Regions from separate parts of the Homo sapiens genome. Here all the other regions are linked to region 4. The links come from fine-mapping of genetic effects on gene expression. A gene starts in region 4. Each other region holds a variant in brackets. All regions are shown on one strand. Distances are between the middles of the regions.

Region 1 (5,177 bases), 170 kb before region 4:
CTTACTGCTACAAAGAGTCTGTTTTGTCAGTCTTAAGGTCTCTATTTTAATGTTAATGCTGGCCAATTGTGTCTGAACTCCAAAGGAAGGAGGGTATAATGAAGCATGTCTGACTCCCCAACCCCGCATCATGGCCCGAACTAGTTTTTCAGGTTAACTTTGGAATGCCCTTGTCCCAGAAAAGGGGTCCGTTCAGTTAGTTGGGGAGACTTAGAATTTTTTTTTTTTTTTTTTTTTTTTGAGACAGAGTCTTGCTCTGTCACCCAGGCTGTGGTGCAGTGGCACAACTGTGGCTCACTGCAACCTCCATCTCTTGGATTCAAGTGATTCTCAGGCCTCAGCCTCCTGAGTAGCTGGGACCACAGGCACGCACCCCACTCCCAGCTAATTTTTTGGTATTTTTAGTAGAGATGGGGTTTCGCCATGTTGGCCAGGCTGGTCACAAACTCCTGGTCGCAGGTGATCTACCCGCCTCGGCCTCCCAAAATGCTGGGATTACAGGAGTGAGCTACCGCGCCAAGCCAGGGAGTGGTGGCATGCGCCTGTGGTCCCAGCTACTTGGGAGGCTGAGGCAGGAGAATCGCTTGAACCCAGGAGGCGTAGGTTGCAGATCACACCACCACACCCCAGCTTGGGCAGCAGACGGGACTGTCTCAAAAAATATATATATATACATATTTCTTATTTCTGGTTTACAACTCTGGTAGGAAAGCTCAGGGTGTCAAGGAGCACAGAGAGGCAGTAGCTAACCTAGTTCCCAACGAGTCAAGGAGTGCTTCCTAGAGAAAAGACGAGTTCATACTTGAAGGATAACCATGATTAAATTACACAGGGCAGAGAGAGTGAGAGTATTCCAGGTAAGAGAGGACATAGAACTCTGAGAAACATAAAATTCAGTACAGCAGAAGCATGTAATATACAACAATCATAATATTTGTTCAATTCAAACTATATTCCTTTCTACAGGGCAAACCTCAAAATTGGAGTTCAGTTTGGGAGGCCACATGGGTTCATGGCTTCACACAGGAAGGAATTCAAGAGCCAGCAGACAGAGTAAAGTGAAAGCAAGTTTATTAAGAAAGCACTGCACTCCAGCCTGGGCAACAGAGTGAGACTCTGTCTCAAAAAAAAAAGGCAAAGGAATAAAAGAGTGGCAGCTGCATAGGAAGAGCAGCTGTGATGGCTGCTAGTTGGCTATTTTTATGGTTTTTCTTAATCATATGCTAAACAAGGGGTGAATTATTCATAAGTTTTCTAGGAAAGGGGCAGGGAATTCTTGGAACTGAGGGTTCCTCCCCCATCAGACCATATATGGTAGCTTCCCTACATTGCCATGATGACTGTAAACTGTCAGAGTGCTAGTGGGGGTTTCCTCTAGTATGCTAATGTATTATAATTAGCATATAATGAGCAGTGAGGACAACCAGAGGTCACTTTCATTGGCATCTTGGTTTTGGCGGGTTTTGGCCAGATTCTTTACCTCATCCTGTTTTCTCAGTGGGGTCTTTATGACCTGTATCATGTGAAACCAGTCCTGCAGAACTCCTATCTCATTTCTAGGTCATCAATATTACACAAATTTGCCAGCCTCAAAATAAGTATAAATTTAGCTAACTCAAGGACACTCTACTACTAGATGCTCTAAAATGCCTTAAGATCAGGAGAGACTCACAAAGCATCTGACAAGTTTATGTATTTCATACATCAATAATATCCAAATCAATAAAGGCCAAGATCCAAGAATGGCAGCCATTATTCTTTGAAATTCACTAAAAAAAAAAAAAAAAAAAAACAAAGAAACCTGTGTATCACTAAAGAAATATTTATCTAAAAATGCTAAGACAAATCTTTCATGAATATGGGACCCAAAAAGAAAATAAAAAACAACAAAAGTGCTAACCAGACCAGAAGTCTGCCTTTCCAATTCATCTCCCAGATGCTCTGTAAGTAGAAAAACTCCCTCCTGGCAAATAGCACGAATCCTAAGTGTTAAAAAGACATGTTTCAAAGGGATGATAGCATTTCCATTTACATGTATTTTTCTGCTGCTAAATAAGTGATAAATGTCAAGTAAAATATGATCATTTCATATGTTCAAAAAAAGTACAAAAATATACATATTTTAATAGAATGGCATATAACAAGAAAAGCCAAACCCTGACTTGACAGTTTCTTCCTTTCCAGTCTTATTCTTTTTCCCATTCTCCCTCAATATGGTTTAAATTCTGACTTCATTACAAGTACCTAAGTTCATACATAAGCAAAGCAATTTACCATGCAGTCAAAAGGTGAATATAGGTACTGATGGGGAACTTAACAGTAAAAGACATCAATGACCCACAGTATTATACTCCAAGATCTTAAAGATCATCAGGTAACAACCGTTTCTGTGACCACGTACACATTTTATTTTCTGCAAAACAAGCAGATTTGGGATCATTAATGGAGGTCAACGGTAGACCAGAAAAACTAAGGATGAAACTTTAAAAGGTCATGATGATTCTGGAAGTTTCTGTTTGAATTCACAAATGACCAGTATCAATAGTCCTTGAGGTTTTATAAGTACCTTAAGAGTCTGAGCCCTCACATTAATGAACTGAATCCTAAGCAGAGTTTTTGATCGCTGGGGCACTCAGGATTTCAGAAACAATACATTTAAAAATAAGATTAATATGATGGTATAGTGTGGAAAGTTAAAATTAAAAAAAAAAGATTAAAAATTAGATTGTAGCTGGGGAAA[A/C]TTTCTTTTCCTAAGATGAAGTTTCACTGCTTTGAAAAGTAGAAGTGTCTCTTGAAAAAGCCTCCAAGGCAAAAATAATGGCAGCACATCCTCTACATTTCCTTGGTCAGCTGCTTTCCTATATAGCAGTCTCCGGTATACTGAAAGCCAACATGTGGAAATGTATAAGTTGCAGAGCTTAACAAACACACTTAAGAAAAATTAGTCATTTCCACTGACCTTGACTCTCTCCAGGATGGCAGAGTAGATTACAGAGCTCTGACTTTTAATGTGCTTAACAGATTCAGCAACTGGGGGCTGCCCCCTAAATAGTCACATGACTTTGAGCAAGTCCCTTCACCAATCCTGACTTATTTATTTATTTATTTATTCATAACTGAACCATTAACTGAACACCTATTCTCTTCTAAGCACTGTGCTGTGTCAGAAATACAGCATTAAATAAGATAGATGTGGTCCCTATTCCCACTGAATTTAAAGTCTAGCTAGAAATGCCAACAACTAAGCAATTACAAAATAGCATGGCATGAGTTATAGTGCGAAAGCAATTAGAACTCTGAGTTTTTCATGAGTAAAACAAAAGGATTGAATAGTGGTCTCGCAGGGCCCTCTCAGATCTGACATTCATTCAAGTCTAATAGTACAGAAAAATTTTGAAACTTTTCAAATCACTAAACATTTTCCCTCCACTTTACAGTAAAGAAGGCTACAGATAAGAAAAGGGCTAAACAATGAATCTAGTATTCTGTGAAGCTGTGGGGAAAGAGGATTTTAGTGCACAAAGGTTGGATATACAAGAAAAAAGGGCATCTTTACTAAGACAATAGAGACATAGACAAGGCTTACCATCCATATCCTTTAGTTAATGGGCAAAATAGCAATACAAATAAAAGGAAAATAGATAGTTCCATGACAGACATTTCATATATGTATTCATTAAAAACAAACTTTAGGCATCTTCTACACACAATAAATTGTGCTAGATGCAATAGCACAGCAAATATAAATTGGACATGGGTATTGACTTTAAGAAGCTCAGAACTGTGGGAGGCCGAGGCGGGTGGATCATCTGAGGTCGGAAGTTCGAGACCAGCCTGACCAACACGGAGAAACCCTATCTCTACTAAAAATACAAAATTAGACAGGCATGGTGGCGCATGCCTGTAATCCCAGCTACTCAGGAAGGCTGAGGCAGGAGAATCACTTGAACCTGGGAGGTGGAGGTTGAGGTGAGCCGAGATCATGCCACTGCACTCTAGCCTGGGCAACAAGAGCAAAACTGGGTCTCAAAAAAAAAAAAAAAAAAAAAAGAAGCTCAGAAGCTCAATGGTAAAGTGGTAAAGTTAATGATAAAATTAAGCATTTTACAAATTCCTTTGTACAAACCTCAGAAAACTAATATCCCACACAAAACACCATATAACCAAGGTGTCAGCAAGATCTGGCCCACTCAGCATCCATTTACTAATGGTTATTAGTGGTTAATATTTTGCTCAGAGATACATGTGAAGTTGATGGTTACTTCTGAGTGCCCATAAAATGTTAAGTCCAAATATTTTACTAATATTTGAACTTCTGGTTTTTCCAAAAAATGTGCACCCACAATGTGTTTTACTGCTGCTTTAAAACAAACAAACAAACAAACAAACAACAACAACAAAAACAAATAGGCTAAGAAATTTGGGTTGTTACTGGCAGTAAGCCTCTGGGTGAGCACTATTCAAGCTGCTCAGAGCTTTGATCTGCTCAAGATAGATCCAGGTCATGAAGAATGCTTGATTTATGAGATCTGTGAGTAGCAAACTGTCTAAAGCCTCAGAATTTCTTTTCTGAAATACCAAAACAAAATGAAGTGAGGAACTCCCGAAGCAAGCCATGTAATTTTCCAGTTTCTATTATGAGTAAACTTAAACTTGTATCATTTTGCACATGGTAACTACACTAAACTCTTCAGCCCCAAAATACTGCCTGCCATACCAGTCTCACCAGCCTGAGCACCTGTGGTCCTTAAATCTCATGCAGTGGCTTGCAGGCCTTCCTTCTAACAAGAACCTTTATTTCTTTAGTGTTATTAATCAGTCTGTTCTGAACACTCAGCCCAGCTGTTTTCAATATCCCCCTCTTTTTGTCTTGGTTTTCCCAGGGCAGATGCAGTAATAAATAATGGTTCATCTCATGCAGAGAGAGAGGGCTCTAAATTAATTTGCCAAGAACTATTCACTAGGAGCCAATTCATAAATAGATCAATTCACTGAAGATACCAAATTTATACTTTTTCACTTTTCGAAGATTTCAGTGAAATTTTAGTAGAATGATTTACACTCTGCTTCATAGCAGGATTTTAAAAACTAATTTGTAAAATGCAAAGAGTTGTAGAGTAGTTTAGTCTTCATATGAATATATTCTTTGTGAAAATATTCAATAAATGTGAATATTT
Region 2 (5,000 bases), 790 kb after region 4:
TCATCTGGGGTAAATGGTTAATTTAGGATGGGCCTTGCTCACATGTCTGCTGATTAGCAGGCTTTCTGTTGGGGTGCATGCCTTAGTTCTCATCTATGTGGCCTTTCTAGCAGGCTAGCTTGAGCTCTATTCTTATAGTGGCCCCATAGATCTAGAGCAGCAGTAGTTGGCAAGCTCCAATGTGCAAGCACTTTCTCTTTTTTTTTTTTTTTTTTTTTTGAGACAGAGTCTTGCTCTGTTGCCCAGGTTGGAGTGCAGTGGCATGATTTTGGCTCACTGCAACCTCTGCCTTCTGGGTCCAAGCGATTCTCTTGCCTCAGCCTCCTGAGTAGCTGGGATTACAGGTGTGCGCCACCATGCCCCCCTAATTTTTGTATTTTTTCTGAGATGGAGTCTTGCTCTGTCACCCAGGCTGGATTGCAGTGGAGCAATCTCGGCTCACTGCAACCTTTGCCTCCCAGGTTCAAGCAATTCTCCCTGCCTCAGCCACCTGAGTAGCTGGGATTACAGGCGCCCACCAACACGCCCGGCTAATTTTTTTTTTTTTTTGTATTTTTAGTAGAGATGGAGTTTCACTGTGTTGGCCAGGCTGGTCTCGAACTCCTGACTTCAGGTGATCCACCTGCCTCGGCCTCCCAAAGTGCTGGGATTACAGGCGTGAGCCACAGTGCCCGGCCTTAATGTTTGCATTTTTAGTAGAGACGGGGTTTCCCATCTTTGCCAGGCTGGTCTTGAACTCCTGACCTTAGATGATCAGCCCGCCTTGACCTCCCAAAGTGCTGGGATTAAAGGTGTGAGCCACCATGCCCCGCTGTGCAAGCCCTTTTCAAGCCTCTACTTGTGCCACGTTTGCTAATATCCCATGGTCAAAGCAAATCACAAAACCAAGCTCAGATTCGAGAGGCAGAAAATAGATTTCTTGATGGGAGAAGTGGCAAGGAGACAAGCACACAAGGGTGGGAGTTATTTGTGGCCATTTTGCAATCTGCCACAAAGACCTTTCCAGGGTTCTCAGTGTGAATCCTCGATGTCACATGGCAGGATTCCCCTGCTTTCATTGATAACTGAAATTCATGCTTGAGTGCATTACTCTTCATGGCTTTGACCAGACTATGGGGAGGATGTCCTCTCTATCCTCATAAGCCTGATGATGGCAGTGAGGTAAGCACTGCCCAGTAGCTATACGAAGAGTTCAGACTATAAGATGAGTCTCGGCTGGGTGTGGCGGCTCACACCTGTAATCCCAGAACTTTGGGAGGCTGAGGCAGGCAGATCACAAGGTCAGGAGATCGAGACCATCCTGGCTAACACAGTGAAACCCCATCTCTACTAAAAATACAAAAAATTAGCTGGGTGTGGTGGTGAGCACCTGTACTCCCAGCTATTTGGGAGGCTGAGGCAGGAGAATAGCATGAACCCGGGAGGTGGAGATTGCAGTGAGCCAAGATCGCGCCACTGCACTCCAGCCTGGGCGACAGAGCAAGACTCCATCTCAAAAAAAATAAATAAATAAAGATGAGTCTCTAAGGAGTGTTTACAGGTAGGTAAGCATTTGAGAAAAGGGGACGCAATCAAGTAGCATGACAAAGTGATCAGTCCCATCTAAGCTATGATGGCCATGACTCAAATTCAAAATTCCAAAGAATGAATACATGAGAGTCACTCCAGCAAAATGCATGTTCTCTCACACCAACTGGGGCTGGCGATGAAGCCATATGGTGAGCACTGTAACATAATGGTTTAAATGTGGCCTTGGGCAAGTAACTAAGCCTAACCTAAAATGGAAGCAATATTTGTTGAATATCAAATGACATAATTCGTGTAAAGCATGGAATGAGTGCTGAGTAAATAGCATTACCATTATTATTATTATTATTAACTGGGCTGGGCCAAAAATGAGAACCCCTTCTTGTCTCTGCGATAGAAGCACAGATGGGAAGACATTCCTGAAGCAGAAGTATTATCTGTGGTTTTTTAGAATACCAAAAACAGGCTGGGCATGGTGGCTCATGCCTGTAATCCCAGCACTTTGGGAGGCCAAGGTGGGCAGATCTCTTGAGGTTAGAAGTTCGAGACCAGCCTGGCCAACATGGTGAAACCCCGTCCCTACTAAAAATACAAAAATTAGCTGGGTGCAGTGGTGGGCGCCTGTAATCCCAGCTACTCAGGAGGCTGAGGCATGAGAATCACTTGAACCTGGGAGATGGAGGTTGCAGTGTTCAGAGATCAAGCCACTGCACTCCAGCCTGGGCAACAGAACAAGACTAGGTCTCAAAAAAAAAAAAAAAAAAAAAGAGGCCGGTCGCAGTGGCTCACGCTTGTAATCCCAGCACTTTAGGATGCCGAGACGATGGATCACTAGGTCAGGAGATTGAGACCATCCTGGCTAACACGGTGAAACCCGTCTCTACTAAAAATACAAAAAATTAGCTGGGCGTTGTGAGGCAGGCGGCTGTAGTCCCAGCTACTCAGGAGGCTGAGGCAGGAGAATGGCATGAACCCAGGAGGCGGAGCTTCCAGTGAGCCAAGATCACGCCACTGCACTCCAGCCTGGGTGACAGAGCGAGACTCCCTCTCAAAAAAAAAAAAAAAAAAAGAATG[C/T]CAAAAACGAAGGCATCAGGCCTTGAGTTCCGTTTTTTTCTTCAACATTTATGTTAGTTTTAGGGGTACATATGCAGGCTTGTTATATGGGTAAATTGCATGTGGCTGAGGTTTGGTGTACGAATGATCCTGTCACCCAGGCAGTGAGCATGGTACCTCATGGGTGGTTTCTCAACCCTTGTCCCTGTCTCACCCCTCCTGTCTAGTGGTGCTCAGTGTCTATTGTTCCTCTCAGGCCTTGAGTTTCTAATTGCCTATGGAATGCTTTATTTTGTAGAGGTCCTGCTTGAAGCTTTGTTCCTCACCGTGGATCCCTACATGAGGTATTATTTATTTCGCCCCTCAAAATGCTAATGCTGTGTTAAATGCTATCTGGAAGTAGTTCATCTTCTAAAATATCCAACTGACTTAAAACATTGTCACTTTCCTTCTGTTTCTCCCAGCCAGTATCAGTGATAAGATTCATGCACGCTCGTCTTTTGCAGGCAAAGGTCTAAGTAGCTTAGTGAGGGATCACCTCAGTCCCTTTGTCCCAACCATCTCCTATCTGCTCTGCACAATTTGCCTTTCACTGCTCAACAGAATTACTTCCAGAAAAAAAAAAAAAAAGAAGGAAAAAAAAAACCTTAAAAGAAAAAAATAAAGCCTGGGCAACATGGCAAAGCCCTGTCTCTACTAAAAATACAAAAAAAGTAGCCAGGCCTGGTGGCGCAGGCCTGTGGTCCCAGCTGCTCAGAAGGGTGAGGCAGAAAGATCACTTGAGCCTGGGAGGCAGAGGTTGCAGGGAGGCAGAGGTTGCAGCGAGCCAAGATCTTGCCACCGCACTCCAGCCTAGGTAACAGAGCAAGACCCCGTCTCATAAAGAAAAAAGAAGCCAAACCCCAATTTGTGCATTTCACTACTGGCAAGTAATTTGGATAGAGGAAGATGCTAAGACTAAAATCAGTTTTTCTGGCCTTCCATTTACCTGTATTCTTTTAATGTAGGTGAATCTGTGGTTGACTCAAACTTATATACTCAGCAGACAACTCAGGGAGGGGAGGAAATCAAAAGCCTTTATTGACTACTAAGTCCTCAGTATTTTTTTGCCTCGGTAAATAACATAGCCATCATTCTTTTACATTTTTTTCATAGCTGATTGATAAAGATTCAAATCTTAAGTGGAAAATACAGTTTAAAAATGTTAATTGGCATCTTTTTGCGTAGCTAGTGTTTTGGGTAATAACTACCCAGTGGTGCCTGGGTTCTATTTTTAAAGTCATTGGTAGAAATTCATCTTTACTTGAACATGGCAGTAAGACTTTTGTGTTCACTCATAAAAAAATCCAATCAGAGTGCTTATCTGAGGTCACAGAGCAGAACTTCCTCTAACAGCTTTCCTCCTGTATCTCACCTAGTTGTAGCCCTTCATCTGTCTGGGTTTTATTGCCGCATACACTTATCCAGCAGTTTTTCATTTGGCTTGAAACTCAAAACAGTCCCCCGATGCTCCTATGTATTAAGAATGGAATTTTATTTATTTACCTATTTTTTTTTTTTTTTTTTTTTTTTTTTTTTTGCAGAGTGGCAGCCAAAAGATTGAAGGAAGGTGATACAATGATGGGGCAGCAAGTGGCCAAGTAATTATTTCCATTTGTCCCAGTGCTTGGAAAATATGTCTCCTCTTTACCTCCTGCTGGGTCCTGTCTCTGTCCATTGCTCCTACAATTTCTTCAGCCTATGTTGTTGACTCACTGTGTGATCTTGGAATCAACTTGGGAAATTCTGTCTCCTTCCTAACTAGCTGGAAAGGAGGGAAGGATGTGAAATTGTCATTTTTTCAGCTTCACTTTGCCATCCTTACTTTTAATTACTAAAAAAAAAAAAGTATTTGTCCAGGTCATGATTTATTGCGGGATCTGGCCAGCAGCCCACAATGCAACAGGGTTCTCTCTTTGTTCCCAGGTGGATCGGCAGGTTGAGAAATAATAGACACACACAAGATAGTGAAAGCTGGGTCCAGGGGCGTCACCGCCTTCTGGTTCCGTGGTGCCACCAAAGCACTGAATATACCCGCATTTATTATTAAGTTTAGTGAGGGCGGGGGTAGGTTAGTGAGGGATTTAGGGTCATTTGATTATGAGGTGAGATGGTCACATGGGGATGAAGTAATTCTTTAACATACATCTGTATGCAGAAGTACAGTATACAGAGATAAGAATTTACAATATAGTGTGTGCATCAGTAATTTCTAACAGAGCCTTAAAACAGAAACACAGTCTTTCCATAACCTATGATTAGCAAGATATTAATCAGCAGTAACAGTTGCAGCAAAAGCTGGTTACAAACAATCCATAGAAACAGGAGGTGAAGCTAGACAATCAGTTAGACCAGAAATTCTCAGAAGGGAGTATGCCTTA
Region 3 (5,177 bases), 140 kb before region 4:
AAAGACAATGTTCTATATAAAATGATATTAGGTTCTCAGGCCACTCAAAAGAATCTCACTGAGCCTATTCTGCTGAGCAGAAGTATAGAATATTCCCAGATAACACAGCCAACCAGAATTATATTATCATTTCTGTGAGAAAATGCAACCCTAGTTTACCATAGTGATAAGCCTTGACTCCTTTGGAAGCATCAGGGCGCTGTGAACCAGCAACCCCAGGATTCCAGGGCTGCACTAGGGTCATTAAAGACTTGCTAATCCTCTTCTACAGTGGCTAAATTTAAAATAATTAAAATTAAATATAATTAAAAATTCAGTTCCTTACGAAGCCACATTCCAACTGCTTAAGAGCCAGATGGCTAGTGGCTATTACACTGGAAGGTGCAGAAGGAGAACATTCCCATCACTACAGAAAGATCTCTGGATAACACTGCACTAGTCAGGAAAGAAGAATTCTCACTTTTCTAGAGCATCATAAAAGAAAGCAGCCTATGGTAGCACAACAATGTGAATGAACTTAATGCCACTGAATTGCATACTTTAAAATGGTTAGGATAGTAAATTTTATGTTATATGTATTTTACTACAATTTTTTTAAGGCCGCTTTCTCAGTCACAGTCGCTCCATATTTTCCGAGGTATAGCATAAACTGAAACCGGTCACTAAACTAGACCCCCTTCAAGCGCGGAGCACGCCAAAGCCATGAATTTGTAAATGGCTGTTCAATACACAAAAGAGAGTCAATTCCTACAGTCCAGTTCTACAGCCCATGCTTTGGTTTTCTCAGTTTTCACATGTCCTTGGTTGGGCCTTGGATCCATCCACATTTTATTTCAACAGCACCATAACTAGAACCCCTTCTCAAATCTCACGCACACACAAATCTCTTTCAGAACTGTATTGATCCCTCAGAACTCTTAACGTCTGTGCCACTGGTGGCATTTTGTTGGCTTCTGGGTATGTGGAGATATAGATGGGAAATGGTTAACGTTTAAAAAAATAGTTGAAATCAAAAGGAAATAGGATGGGATGAGGGGTGCATGCACACATACACACCATTCTTTAGAAACTCGACTAGAAGGGGTATATTAGTTGGCTAGAAGAGCCACTAAAGCCTTTTGTATATGTGGAGGTGGAGAGAGTAAGCAGGGAGAGTCAGGGGAATGGGAAACTATGGCCCCAAAGTAAGAATAACTCAAAATCTCCACAATGCAGTCTGCAATTGTGCTTCATCACCTACAAACCTAAGTGTTCCCTCAGTTATCAACTCATACTTGAGTCCTGTCTTAAACCATTTCTGGGGTTTGCATATTATGTATATTCTCTACTTGGGGCATATTTGATACATGTGGTAACTTCTGAGAACATAACTCCCCATCGAAACAGTGTCTATCCACCCATGAAGTCAAAGAGTAAAAGCAAGAGATCTGAGTCCAATTCAGGATTATTCTTCCCAGGACTTTCAAAAGCATAAAACAAGGTGAGGAAATTCTAGGCCAGAGACCAGATCTGATAAATGGTTTAAATTTCATTTAATCCAGGACAAATCTAAAACCACATATCTACCGGTTGGTGCTTTATTTATTTATTTATTTATTTAATAAGACACTTTGTCACTCAGGCTGGAGTGCAGTGGCACGATCTCGGTTCACTGCAGCCTTGACCTCCCAGGTTCAAGCAATCCTTTCACCTCAGCCCCACAAGTAGCTGGGACTACAGGTGTACATCACCACGCCCGGCTAATTTTTGTATTTTTTTGTAGAGGAAGGGTTTCACCATGTTGCCCAGGCTGGCTGGTTAGTACTTTAAAATGAACACAACCAATTTCCAGGTAACTGAAAAATCTCAGCATCCTAATGGAACCACCCTCAATCCCTAGCATTTGAATGTAATACCACTTCTCAAATAAGGAATCATAAGTGCAAACAAGAAATCCATTTCTGAGGGGTGGCTGTGAGGATGAGTGCTATGATGGTATCTAGCTGTGCTGTGGGTAGAAATGACATTGCCCAGTTGTCATCGCATAGCCCTGTATCTTGATAATTCAAGCTACCTACACCTGTTAACTTGAGAGTACTCCCACTATCCATTCTAAAAGCAATCTGGGCCATGTGGATTCAAATTTCTACTTCACCTGCTGTAACCCAAGAGGTAGATGTCAGATGTTAGGGTCGACACAATGGGAATGAGCACCTGCTCTGGTATCCTGGGCTGTTCCAAGGACCCACTGGGGACTGAGCTGAGACCTTCTCAACTAGGACTTTAGAACATTCATCTTGCCCAGCTTTAGTCTCAGGGCTGGGTAAAGGGGCTGAGCTTTTTGACTATAACCAAGGATGGAGCCATAAATAAGTAGATATGGTAAGTGAAAGTAAGGTAATTGGTCCCAACTGGGTCAATGAGGGTCAGGACCCAAGGTCAAAGCAAGCAATGAGAATGATCACATATATCAAGCCAATCACATCCTTGGAATGAAACCAAGGAGGAGAGAATCATGGCCCCAACAAAGACCCAGGCTAGGCGTATACACCAGGTAGATCTATACAGCACAGTGACTGGACAGATATAAAATGTGACTCAGGTGAAAGGAAAGCAGGCCCAGAGCTACTTAGAGGTGGAAGAGATATTAAACAGGACAAGGTGAAACCTGGGTGACTATTGCTGGAGTATTAGGCATAAAGCACTAAAAAAGAGTAAGATCCCTTATCTGAAGCATGAAATACTAGAGGATAGCAAAGGTGGTCTACAGTTTCTTAGGAAAAAGTTCTTTAAGTGGCTGGGCACGGTGGCTCACGCCTATAATCCCAGCACTTTGGGAGGCCGAGGCGGGTGAATCACCTGAGGTCGGGAGTTCGAGACCAGCCTGACCAACAAGGAGAAACCTCGTCTCTACTAAAAATAGAAAATTAGCTGGGCATGGTGGCACATGCCTGTAATCCCAGCTACTCGGGAGGCTGAGGCAGGGGAATTGCTTGAACCTGGGAGGCGGAGGTTGCAGTGAGCCAAGATTGCACCACTGCACTCCAGCCTGGGTAACAAGAGCGAAACTCGTCTCAAAATAAATAAATAAATAAATAAATAAA[G/TAAATAAATAAAG]TTATTTAAAACCAGAATTCTATGCCCAGCAATGATTATTCAAGTGTGTGGAGAAAAATAAAGACATTTCATTTAAGGGCATATAAGGGCACACAGTAATCAGTCTAATGCACTTTAACAATGGGGATAACAAGAGAATGTATCCTATTGATTTTTTTAAAAAACTAAATTAGAAGAAAAATTCAAGACAGATATAAAAATCAGAATAACAATTAAACCTGAATATGTATTTTTTCAAATACAGAATATATATTCTTTTCCAGTGCCTGCAGAACATTTCTCAAAAGTTATCATGCAATATGCCACAAAGAAAATCTCAAAATTCCAAAGTGCAAAAATCATATAGGCCATATTTATGACTGAAATGCAATAAAACTAAAAATTAACATGATAATCTAAGAGAAAATCTTTAAAAAATATTATTCTAATTAATATAGACTATTCAGAGGGCCTGGCATGGTAGCTCACGCCTGTAATTCTAGCTCTTTGGGAGGCCAACGTGGGAGGGTCACTTGAATTCAGGAGTTTGAGACCAAACTGGGCAACAGAGTGAGAACCTGTCTCTACAAAAAATTTAAAAAATTAGCCGGGCATAGTGGCACACACCTGTGGTCCCAGCTACTCCTTAAGAGGCTGAAGTGGGAGAATCACTTAAGCCCAAAGAGTTTGCAGTTACAGTGAGCTATGATTGCACCACTGCACTCCAGCCTGGGCAACAGAGCAAGACCTATCTCTTTAAACAACAACAACAACAACAACAACATAGGCTATTTAGAAATACAAGAAACTGACACATTAAAACCTAAGGAAAACAGGCAAAGCAAAGAACCCAGGAAGACGGATTGTCTTACATGCCTTTATTAGAAAATTTTTTTAATTGAAAAATATTGTTTAAATATTAAACCCAACAAGTTTAAAACACGACAAAAGAAACAAGAAGAAAAGGCTTATAATGTAAAGGAGAAATTAAAGAAATAGAAAACAAAACAAAGAAGGAGATGGCACACATTACATCATGAAGAAAAAAAAGATTTAAAGAAATCATTTATTTAGCACCGCCTAACTTCCACGTACTGCATGCCAGGTGCTGGGGATATGTTTCATATGTTGAAAAGGACCAACATATGCTGTCTTGATTCAAACCACAGATGGTCTAAAAAGGATTCCTAGAAGGAAAACTCAGGACATCAGTATTTCTAGCTTCCATTTTTATTCTTTGTATTTTGACTTTGTTCTTATTGGGAACTAAAAATTAACATTTATTTGTATTCAGTATTTTCTTGATGGTCTGGATTTCCTCTTTTAGAATCACTTACAGTGTATAATTACTGTGAAAAATTCATTGATTTCTCAGTTTCAACACCCTGTTCATTTCTCTGTTTCTTCACTTCCTTTTCAATCAGTGCTTCTGCTTCTTCTGCCACTCTCCTATCTATAGTTTAAGTTTGGGGATATTAATTTATACAGAATACCACAGCTCTTACTGTGAAAGTTAACCTAGGACCAATATAGTCACTCACTTGGAGTAATATAGAGTATCATGTAGATGATGGTAAAAGCATCAAGCATATGCTGTTGCTTTATCAGACATGATAAATAATGCAGAACTAATGCAATATATCAATTTCATTTGGCCTCTAGTTATTTGAGACTATACCACATTCATTGTCTTATCTACAACTGAAGGTAGTGCTTCTACTCAAAGCCAGTGCTAAAGACTGAATTAGATTTCGTTAGCAGTAATATGCAGATAGCATGTCCATCTACCTCTATCTTTTCTATTTTCCATCTTAAGTGTTTTGGAAATGCAAAAACAAATTAATTTGCCATCTCCTTACTACTAACCAATTTAATCCATCAAGCCCAGTGTAAAATGACAAAGAACTGCTTTCACTTTGCCATTTTCCCATACACACAAAACTTAAGAACTCCTTGATCTTAATTAAGATGACATATCACCAAGGGGACCGAAGCCCCTCTTTTATTATACTAGTCCACTTCCTGCAATATTGTATAATTAGGAACAAGAGACAAGCTGATGTATTTATATCAGCACTTACTGAAATACTAATTAAATGCTATAATAATACAACA
Region 4 (5,177 bases):
GCATCCCTGTACTCTACTCACGAGATGCCATTAGCATCTCCATTCAATTGTGACTATCAAAAATGTCTTGAGATATTACCAAATGTCCTCTGGGGATCAAATTGTCCCTGGTTTAAATACACAAAGAGATCCAAATCCACACTTGTGATAAAATAAATGCAAATTTTAACAATAATGAGGTGACACTTTTTTCTCTAATTAGATTTTCATCATTAACTATTTTGCGGTTAGCCAACAAGTGGGATTAGAGGATCTCATTTATCCTTTTGGGTGTGCAACCCTTCTGGGGGGTCATCTGGAAATATCTGTCAAAATATAAAGTGCATTTCCTCTTTTTTCTTTTTGAGACAGACTCTCACTCTCTCTCGCAGGGTGGAGGGCAGGGCAGTGGCATGATCTCGGCTCACTGCCACCTCCGCCTCCAGGTTCAAGCGGTTCTCCTGCCTCAGCCTCCTGAGTAGCTGGGATTACAGGTGCCCGCTACCAGGTCCAGCTAATTTTTGTATTTGTAATTTTTGTAATTTTGTAGTTTTAGTGGAGACGGAGTTTCACCACGTTGGCCAGGCTGGTCTCGAACTCTTGACCTCCAGTGATCCGCCCGCCTCGGCCTCCCAAAGTGCTGGGACTACAGGCGTGAGCCACTGTGCCCAGCCACATTTACTCTTTGATCCAGCAATTTCACTTCCAGGAGTTTATCCTACATATACACTTATATATGTGCAAATAGATAAATACAAGTATAATTATGGAAGCAAAAAAAGAGTATCCAAAAAACTGGAAACAGTCTAGTATCCAACAATAGGGAACAGGTTAAATAAACAAAGGTATATTCATATACAGGTTGAGCAAACCAAATCTGAAAATCTGAAATCCGAACACGTCTGGAACCAAGCATTTTGGATAATGGATACTCAAGCTGTTACAGAATATTATGCAACCATTAAAAAGGAGGAGGGGCCAGGCGCAGTGGCTTACGCCTGTAATCCCAGCACTTTGGGAGGCCGAGGCAGACGGATCACGAGGTCATGAGATTGAGACCATCCTGGCTAACATGGTGAAACCCCGTCTGTACTAAAAATACAAAAAAATCAACAGGGCGTGGTGGCACGCGCCTGAAGTCCCAGCTACTCGGGAGGCTGAGGCAGGAGAATTGCGGGAGGCGGAGGCTGCAGTGAGCCGAGATCATGCCACTGCACTCCAGACTGGAAGACAGAGCGAGACTCCATCTCAAAAGAAAAAAAAAGGAGGCGGAAGATCTGCCATGTACTAAAAATGTATGTCCCTGGGCACAGCGGTGCATGCCTGTAATCCTAAATACTCCAGAGGCTAAGAAGGGAGGAACATCAGCCTGGGAGTTCAAGGCTACAGGCCAGTCTGGGCAACATGGGAGACCCCGTCTTTAAAAAAAACAAAGAAAGAATGTCCCAAGACATACCAACTAAAAGTAGCAAGACCAAGAATAGAGTCTGCTGCTATTTTTAAGAAAGGGTATGTGTGTGTGTGTGTGTGTGTGTGTGTGTATCCGGATGTATACAAATTATGTTCATACATGCACGAAATAGAAACGTAAGTAACTGGGGAACTAGATTTTAGGGATGGGGAGACTCACTTTTTACCCTATACTCTTTGAACTGTTTTAAGTCTTTGGCTATATGCCTGCATGTTTCAGGCAAATTACAAAATCTGACAACACGTCACTCAACTCAAGATACCCAGACCTTACATAAACCAGAAAGTAGAATGGTGGTTGCCAATGTACGAGCGGAGGTGGGGAAGAGGAGTTGTTTCATGGATAGAGTTTCAGCTTGCAGATGAAAAAAGTTCTGGAGATTGACTGCACAACGATATGAATCTACTTAACACTACTGAAGTGTACACTTAAAAAACGGTTAAGATGGCAGATTTTGTACGTATTTTAACACAATTTTTTAAGGTGAAAAAAAAATCCCCCAAAGATACCCATGTTTTAAGATCGGTTTAGTTTCTAATTTGGAAATCATTTTTTAAACACTCCATTATTACTCTAGAATTGAGCGTCAGGAACAAGTGAAAACTCTTTAAACTCTGGAGCTGCTCCTGCGACCTTTCACCTAGAACTCACACGCATTCGGCCAGGCACGCACTCCTGCTAAACTCAGGGAGGGCCGGCACTGGGGGCGGCGTGGTGACTCCCCCTCGGCCCTTTACCCGTGGAAAAGGTTTCTACACTGCTGCCATCCTGTAATACAAAAGTTTGTGTTCCTTTTCACACGTTACCGCAGATTCTCGGTGCACAGTGCCCAGCGCGGACCAGAGCTCAGAGCGTGCCCAGGCAGTATCCTTGACCTCCCACAGCCGGGCCGGCCAGCCCGGGCGATCCGCGGCGGCCCCACCGAGACGCGCCCTTCGCCCGACAGGGTCTCTCCCCGCGCCGCCCCTACCCCCTTACCCGGTGTTGGGTAACATGACTTTCGTAGATCAGAGGAGGTGGCGGCGACAGCGGCGGCGGCGAGCAGAGAGCTAAAGCTGGACCGTCCCTCCGCATTTATCCCCGCCCCTGCCCCGCCCCTGCCCCCCCCGATGCCTGTGCGGGAACTGCGCGCGGAAAAGCCGGGATCGCCGAGTGCGCCTGCGTATGCAGTGGGCCTCCTGCGCCCAGCGTTCCTCTTCGTCGCCTCCCAAGCCTGGTCCCTGATTGCAGGCTCTCCGCGCAGGCGCTTTGAGGCACAGCTCCGCCCCGCCCCCTCACTGGTCGTACGGTGACAATCAGGCTCCTGTCGGCGCCTAGCGTCTGGGCAGCGTCAGCCGCTACGTCCACCTTTTCCCTGTCTCTAGGGGTTTCTCCTCGCGCCGCTGTGTTCCAGCGCCGGCTCCGAGCTGGGAGGGTGACTGAGCCCTGAGCTTGGGCCCTCCGAGAGGTGCGTTAGCTCTGGGTCTTCTTGCCCCTACGCCCGAGCCTGGCGTTCTCTCGGCCCCCTCTTAGGAACGCTAGCCCTGGGCAGAAATTGCCTTTGTGGCTGAAGTCGGCCAGCGTCGCGTTTCCACTCTCCCGCCGAATCTGGACCCAAGCCAGCCTTCCCTTGTGCATCGGTAGATAGCTTGTGTTAAGGCGCCAGCTTCTTGGAACAGAGCTCTCTGCAAAAGTCGCGCTGAAGAATTCATAGTCAAAAGCTGAACTTGCAGAAGTTTCTACTTCTGGAATGAGTGTTGAAATGAGATCAATTCTGACATTCAGTTTCGCTTTTGGGATTATGCCTTGGACTAACTCAGCTACTCTGATGAGCTAAAGACTGTAGTATATTTGAAGGAAGACACGAGGAACTGTTTTGTATTTTGTAGGGATAGAACAGGACCTTGAGGAGATTATTATATGAAGACTAGTTAAAGAAACTAGCCTGGAGATGGCTTATGTACTCTCTCCTTTGTTTTTGTTTTGTTTTTTGAGACGGAGTCTCGCTGTCGCCCACGCTGAAGTGCAGTGGCGCGGATCTCGGCTCATTGTAACCTCCGCCTCCCGGGTTCAAGTGATTCTCCTCCCTCAGCCTCCGGAGTAGCTGGGACTACAGGCATGCATCACCACGCCTGGCTAATTTTTTTGTGTTTTTAGTAGAGACGGGGTTTCGCCATGTTGGGCTGGCTGGTCTCGAGCTCCTGACCTCAAATGATTGGCCCGCCTCGGCCTTCCAAAGTGCTGGGATTACAGGCGTGAGCCTCCGCGCCCGGCCTCTCTCCCCTTTGTTATGGGCCCTAAATGACTCTATTTCCTCCTGCATATCACCTGCCCGACTCCTGTAGGCATTTGAATTGATGATTCATGATACGGTCTTTAGAGGCTCCAGAGGAATTTGCAAATTATTATCATCCACTAAGTGATTGCTGATTACCTGAGATACAGCAGCTCAAAAAGGACAAGGTCTCTGCCTATGGGAGGTATGAGTAGCCAGTGTGTTCTTTAGACTGTTGTTAAGCATTAGGTGTTTTAAGAAGAGTGTTGATAGAGACTGTTAGATGAAAATAACTTACTCTCCTCTCATCCTTAGGAGCACTTGCTGAAGCGTGTATATATCTGTCGAATAGAGTGAATTCTTAGTAACGGGGTGACATTTCCTTCATATCATCTAAAATGTTCTCTCCTTTTTGAAAGCCACAATATCTTCAGTCTGTTAGAGCCTCCTTTCTTGAATTTGTGTGCTTCTATTTCCATTTGTTACGGAAAGAGAGCTCAACGAAGAGGCAAAGCAAACAAAAAACCTTTGCCAATTTTTCAGTCATAACGATATTTTGTGAGCCTAAATACCTGTACTTACACTATTTTTATACTTTGCGATGGCTTTCACAGAAGGCAAATATATTCCTAAATTATTAGAGGTAGTTTTACCAAGCAAGTTTAAATCCATTGTATTCAGTACTTTGACTAGAGTTCATTTAAAGTGTGATTTGGAGTTACCCATGACCTTCTACCCCATTACCTTGATTAACCTAGTGTTAGATTAATGCTAGAGGTGAGGAATGGGTGAAGGAGAGGACTTGTGAACATAATTAGATCTTCATTTTGGAAGGTGAATAATTTTGGCTTAGAACACTTCTGACTGCAGCATGAAGAATAGTTTGTGAGTAGATAAAGGCACAGAAGCCATTTAAAAGCCCATAGTAATGTAATGTGTAAGAAAAGTAGTAACCTGAACTAAGGCAGTAATAGTAGAAATGAAAAGACATACTCAAGATATGGAACCTGGCAGATGTAACTAATGATTAGATGTAGGAGCAAAGGGGGAAGATGGTATCAGTGGTGACCTTCAGATTTCTGGTGTAAAGTCCTGGGAGGATGGTGATAACACAGTAAAGAAGTGAAAACAAATGGTTTGAAAAATAGATGTCTTGAAAGTCAGGTAAGTCTCACTCATTTCACCCCTTCTCAGCTTGATAAAACTACCTAAAAATGCAACAGTTTCCTGACAGACTACTGGTTACAACACATTCTCCCAACCAATTTATATCCCTTAAGTTTTGGTTATATGCAACATTAATGTAATTTGGCTAATTTAAACCAAATTAAAGGGGTTGGAGAATTTAGAAGAATTCTGGGATAGTTTATATAACTTAAGGAAGAGCTGAACAACTAAGCTTGACAATGGGAACTAAGGTGCTTCCATGATCCTCAGCAGCATGATCTTTCTAGAATGCATTGTAGGTGGCTT
Region 5 (5,000 bases), 67 kb after region 4:
TAAAGCTTACTACTTTGATCAGATAAGATGTTTTGTATCATTTCGGTCCCTTTATGTATCCAGAAGTTTGTTTTATGTTAAACATGGTTTGTCTTTATGAATGTTCTGTGTACACTTGAATGTGTAGTCTAATTTTGTTGGGTGTAGTGCCTTTTAAATGTCAGTGGGGGCCGGGGGCGGTGGCTCATGCCTGTAATCCCAGCACTTTGGGAGGCCAAGGTGGGCGGATCACGAGGTCAGGAGATCGAGACCATCCTGGCTAACACGGTGACACTCCGTCTCTACTAAAAATACAAAAAATTAGCCGGGCATGGCAGCGTGTGCCTGTAGTCCCAGCTACTTGGGAGGCTGAGGCAGGAGAATGGTGTAAACCCGGGAGGCGGAGCTTGCAGTGAGCCGAGATCGCGCCACTGCACTCCAGCCTGGGTGACAGAGCAAGAGTCCGTCTCAAAAAAAAAAAAAAAAATGTCAGTGGGACAGACTGGTTGAAATTCAGGTTTTCTGTATCTTTACTGATTTTTTATTCTGTTAAAGAGAAGAGAAATATTGAAATTTCTGTCCGCAATTGTAGATTTGTGTATTTCTTTTTGTAGTTCTGTGAGGTGTTTCTTTTTTGTTTTTTTGTTTTGTTTTGTTTTGTTTGAGACAGGGTCTCGCTCTCTAGCCCAGGCTCTCTTCTAGGCTTAAGGGATCCTCCCGCCTCCGCCTCCTGAGTGGCTGGGACTGAAGGTACACACCGCTGTCTCTGGCTAATTTTTAAATTTTTGTAGAGATGAGTCCTTGTTCTGTTGTGCAGGCCGATCTCAAACTTCTGGGCTCAAGCGAACCTCCCACTTTGACCTCTCAAAGTGCTGGGATTAGAGGCACGAGCTACTGCACCCAGCTGTTCTGTCAGTTTTTGCTTTACGTGTTTTGAAGCTCAGTTACTATATGTATTCACATTTAGGAGTGTTATATCTTGATGAGTTGACCTTTTGTCTCCTTGTGAAATATACATTTTTATCTCAGTAATAGTTCCTATCTTGAAGTGTACTTTGTCTAATGTTAATGTAGCCATTCCAGCTTTCTTATGATTGGTATTTGTGTGGTATACATTTGTCCCTCTTGTCCTTGGGAGATTGGTCCAGTACTTCCCAAGGACCCCAAAATTTGTGGATGCAGAGGCTGAAGTCTTTTATATAAAGAGAGCAGTATTTGCATATAACTTATAGCACATCCTGCTGTATACTTTAAATCACCTCTAGATTACTTAGAATGCCTAATACAGTGCTTACACATAACCTCATTTGCGTGGATTCATTTAAGGTAGTATTTGGCACATGGCAAATTCAACTTTTGCTTTTTGTAACTTTGTGGAACTTTTTTTCCCAAATGTTTTCCGTCGTCAGTTGGTTCATCCATGGATGAATTCATCGGTATGGAGAGCTGACTGTATTTTTTTCCTATTCCTTTTCCTTTTCTTTTAATCTATCTATGTTTAAGATAGGTTAAAGAACAGTTGAGCCAAAGACAACAAATGGCGAGATGGTGGACTTAAATCTACTTAAAAGGATTAGCTTCCAAAAGACTTGGGCTTTGCTTTCTTTTTGCTCACTCTGATAAAAGTGAGCTGCCATGTTGTAAGTTATCTTATGGACAGGCCCATGTACAAACTGAGTCCTGCCAGCAACCACTTGAGTAAGTGTGGAAGTGGATCCTTCATGTGTTCTGTTAAGCCTTGAGATGATTCCGGTCTGTGATAGACTCTCCAGAGGACCTAGCTAAGCCATGTCCAGGTTTCTGACTTCCACAAATTAAGTTACAAAATATTTGTTTTTTCCAGCTGCTAAATTTTGGAGTAATTAGTTATCCAGGCATGGATAAACAATACAGCTGCCTGCTCACAATGGTGAATAAATATTGAAGAAATGAATATAAAAATAACTTATTAGGCTGGGTGTAGTGGCACACACCTGTAGTCCCAGTGCTTTGGTAGGTTGAGGTAGGAGGATTATTCGAGCCCATGAGAGGAGGTTACTGTGAGCTGTGATTACATCACTGCAGTCCAGCCCGGGTGACAGAGCGAGACCCTGTCTCTTAAAAGAAAAAAGTCTTATTAATGTCAGAGTAAGATTATGTAAGTGCAAGTACTTTTTTGTTGTAAATTACTATGGGTAAGACTTTCTTATATGATCATGTTATCTTTATCTGATAGCTTACCATAGTGTGTACATACCACATATGTACTTTGATTTTCCTTTTCCTTTTTTTTTTCTTTGAAACAGTGTCTTGCTGTCACCCAGTCTGGAGTGCAGTGGCACAATTTCAGCTCACTGCAGCCTTGACCTCCTGAGCTCAAGCAGTCTTCCCACTTCAGCCTCCTGAATAGCTGGGAATACAGGCATGCACCACCATACCTGGCTAATTTTTGTGTATTTTGTAGAAACAGGGTTTCGCCATGTTGCCTGGGCTGGTCTCCAACTCCTGGACTCAAGTGATGTGCCCACCTTGGCCTCCCAAAGTTCTGGGATTACATGCATGAGCCACTGTGCCCGGCCTGCTTTTTAACAGTTTATTTTTTCTTAGTGTACTAATGTGGTGAATTTCATTGATTTATTATTATTTTTTAAAATTTTATTTTAATATAAAGTTACAGAAAGATTATAAGAAGAGTACAAAGAACTCGTATATCCTTTACCCAGTTCATATTTGCACCATTTTTCATTTATCATTTCCCCGATTGTCTTACCATTTCCCCTTCCATATATAGTCTTTCTATAGATGTAAACGCACACACACACGTCCTTTTTTTTTTTTT[T/A]AAAAAAAAAAAACAAAAAAAAAAACAAGGTCTCGTTCATTCAGTGGTATGAACACAGATCACAGCAGCCTTGATCTCCTGGGCTCAAGTGATCCTCTTGTCTCAGTCCTTGAACAGCTGGGGACCACAGGCATGCACCACCACGCTCAGTGAATTGTTGTTGTTATTGTTATTGTTGTTTTGTAGATACAGGGTCTCACTATGTTGCCCAGCCTGGTCTCGAACTCGTGGCCTTAAGTGATCCTCCTGCCTTAGCTTCCCCACTTTTTTTTATGTCTTAATCACTTGGTTAAGGTGATTTTCTGCCAGGCTTTTCCATTGTAAAGTTACCAATTTTCTTTTCGTAATCAATGATTTGTTGGAAGATGCTTTGAGACTAGAGTTTATTCTTTAACCCCTAAATATTTGAGTGTATTACCTATAAACAAAGAATTTCCCATTCATTACTGTGATACAGTTAACAAAATCAGGAAATTAATCTGAAATAGGTCCTCAGTCTTTTTGTTTCATTACATTGACTCTTTTTTTCTTTTTAAAATAAAGATGTGGGATTTCACTATGTTGCCCAGGCTGAAGTGCAGTGGCTACTCACAGGCACGATCCTAGAGCACTGCAGCCTCCAACGTCCTGGGCTCTGATGATCCTCTTGCTTCAGCCTCCCATGTAGCTGGGACTACAGGCATAAGTCACCACACCCGGCTAATTAAAAAACCGTTTTTTTTCAGAGACAGGGTTTAGCTCTTGTCCAGGCTGGTCTCAGACTCCTGGCCTTAAGCTATCCTGCCTCATCCTCCCAAGTTGCTGGGATTACAGGCCTGATACACTGTGCCTGGCTAGCAAATCTGTTTCAGAGTACAGTTGTCCCTCAGTATCTAGGGGGGGCCAAAATCCATGCATACTCAAGTTCTCCAGTTGGCTCTGTATAGGTGAAGTCTGCCTGCATGTATAAAAAGTCAACCTTCATATAACTGGGTTTTGCATCCTGGGAATACTGTATTTTTGATCCTCATTTGGACTCGGGCAGTTCAAACTCACTCATGTTGTTCAGGGTCAACTGTATTTCCATATAACTTAACTCAGTTCCTTCTGAATACTTTAAGTCATCTCTAGGTTATTTATAATACGATTTAATGCTATGTAAATAGTTGTTATGCTGTATTGCTTAGGGAATAATGACAAAAAAAGTCTGTACATGTTTATACAGATGCAGTTTTTTTCCAAATATTTTCAATCTGTGATTGTTTGAATCTACAGATGCAGAACCCATGGATACGGTGGGCCAATCGTATATTAAAAAAAAAAAAACACATTTTCCACCATAACTGCAACTGCCCTGGCCCTTAATCCGGATTATCATCACAGCTTCCTAACCAGAGTCCTTCCCTCTTTGTCTTGTTAAAGACTGTTCTTAACACAGCAGCCAGAGTGATCCTTTAAAAAAGCAAATTGATCTTTTCACTCCTGTTCAAAACTCTCTTTCCCTCATTTCGCTCAGAGTAAGGTTCTTTAGAATGGCCGTTAAGGCCCTGCATGCTATGACACACCTTCTCTCTAATCTCTTTACTTCTCCCCTTGCTCATTCTCTTTCAGCCATAATTGCCTCCTTACTGTTTTTCCAGAACATGCAAGGCATTTTGTTTCCTCTACCTACAACATTCTTCCCTCAGATATCTACATGCTTACTCCTTACTACTTGTAAGACTTTGGTTAAATGCCTTTTTCTCTTAAGTCGTACCTTGCTGTCCTATTTGAAATTGAAATTCTTTTCACCTCTGGCACTCCTGATGCTTTTTCTCCTACTTTTTAAGAAGCACTTAAGACTTTAGGACATAATACATAATTTACTTACTTTGATTATTATGTTTCTTTGTGCAAGATTGTAAGCTCCATTAAGGTAAGGGCAGGGATTTCGTTTGTTCCCTAATCTTCCCCAGTGGTTAAAGGCCTGGCACATAGCTGGTGGCTCAGTAAATATTTATCGAATTTGTTGAATGAATGAATATTATTGCTAACACATTTATACATACTGAATTCAATATGTATGGGCTATACCTGTATGGTAAGAACTGAATAAATATACAAATGAATGTCTTTTTGATTGGATATCATGAATTAGAAGGCTTTTTAGAGGAATTACTTGCAGGCATTAAAGAAAATATTCAATATGCTGTCTTCAAAAAAAGTGTTGATATTTTGTTGTTAA

Direction of the effects. Alleles are on the strand shown, and positions count from the first base shown. SD is a standard deviation of normalised expression in the study named. Not every link is listed here.
In carriers of allele A in region 1, the expression in monocytes of the gene that starts at base 2,501 in region 4 tends to be lower than with C alone (moderate effect, 0.65 SD a copy in Fairfax 2014).
With allele G in place of TAAATAAATAAAG in region 3, the expression in CD8 T cells of the gene that starts at base 2,501 in region 4 is higher (moderate effect, 0.55 SD a copy in CEDAR).

The links. PIP is the estimated chance that this variant, and not a neighbour inherited with it, causes the effect.
Region 1: its variant is fine-mapped to the expression of HSDL2 in monocytes (Fairfax 2014, PIP 0.95).
Region 2: its variant is fine-mapped to the expression of HSDL2 in hypothalamus (GTEx, PIP 0.92).
Region 3: its variant is fine-mapped to the expression of HSDL2 in CD8 T cells (CEDAR, PIP 0.92).
Region 5: its variant is fine-mapped to the expression of HSDL2 in whole blood (INTERVAL, PIP above 0.99).

The regions. Positions count from the first base shown.
Region 1 is chr9:112,542,441-112,547,617 of GRCh38, reverse strand. The region is part of intron 1 of KIAA1958; the gene reads right to left. Among named protein-coding and RNA genes, the nearest start is that of HSDL2-AS1, 57 kb to the right of the region's middle. RefSeq lists enhancers at 1-503, 1,135-1,429. The variant A/C (reference allele first, on the strand shown) is at 2,741.
Region 2 is chr9:111,592,146-111,597,145 of GRCh38, reverse strand. It overlaps PTGR1 (prostaglandin reductase 1), which reads left to right. Exons shown (of 10, transcript NM_001146108.2): 3 at 2,879-2,924; 4 at 4,164-4,220. Among named protein-coding and RNA genes, the nearest start is that of PTGR1, 5.0 kb to the left of the region's middle. RefSeq lists an enhancer at 3,068-3,237. The variant C/T (reference allele first, on the strand shown) is at 2,602.
Region 3 is chr9:112,519,868-112,525,044 of GRCh38, reverse strand. The region is part of intron 1 of KIAA1958; the gene reads right to left. Among named protein-coding and RNA genes, the nearest start is that of HSDL2-AS1, 35 kb to the right of the region's middle. The variant G/TAAATAAATAAAG (reference allele first, on the strand shown) is at 3,084.
Region 4 is chr9:112,377,432-112,382,608 of GRCh38, reverse strand. It overlaps HSDL2 (hydroxysteroid dehydrogenase like 2), which reads right to left and starts at 2,501. Exons shown (of 11, transcript NM_032303.5): 1 at 2,429-2,501. The coding sequence starts at 2,445. It also overlaps a transcript of PTBP3 not described here. RefSeq lists a silencer at 2,298-2,547 and enhancers at 2,768-2,887, 2,319-2,918, 2,918-3,167, 3,268-3,317.
Region 5 is chr9:112,310,299-112,315,298 of GRCh38, reverse strand. All of the region lies in intron 1 of PTBP3 (polypyrimidine tract binding protein 3), which reads left to right. Among named protein-coding and RNA genes, the nearest start is that of PTBP3, 21 kb to the left of the region's middle. The variant T/A (reference allele first, on the strand shown) is at 2,798.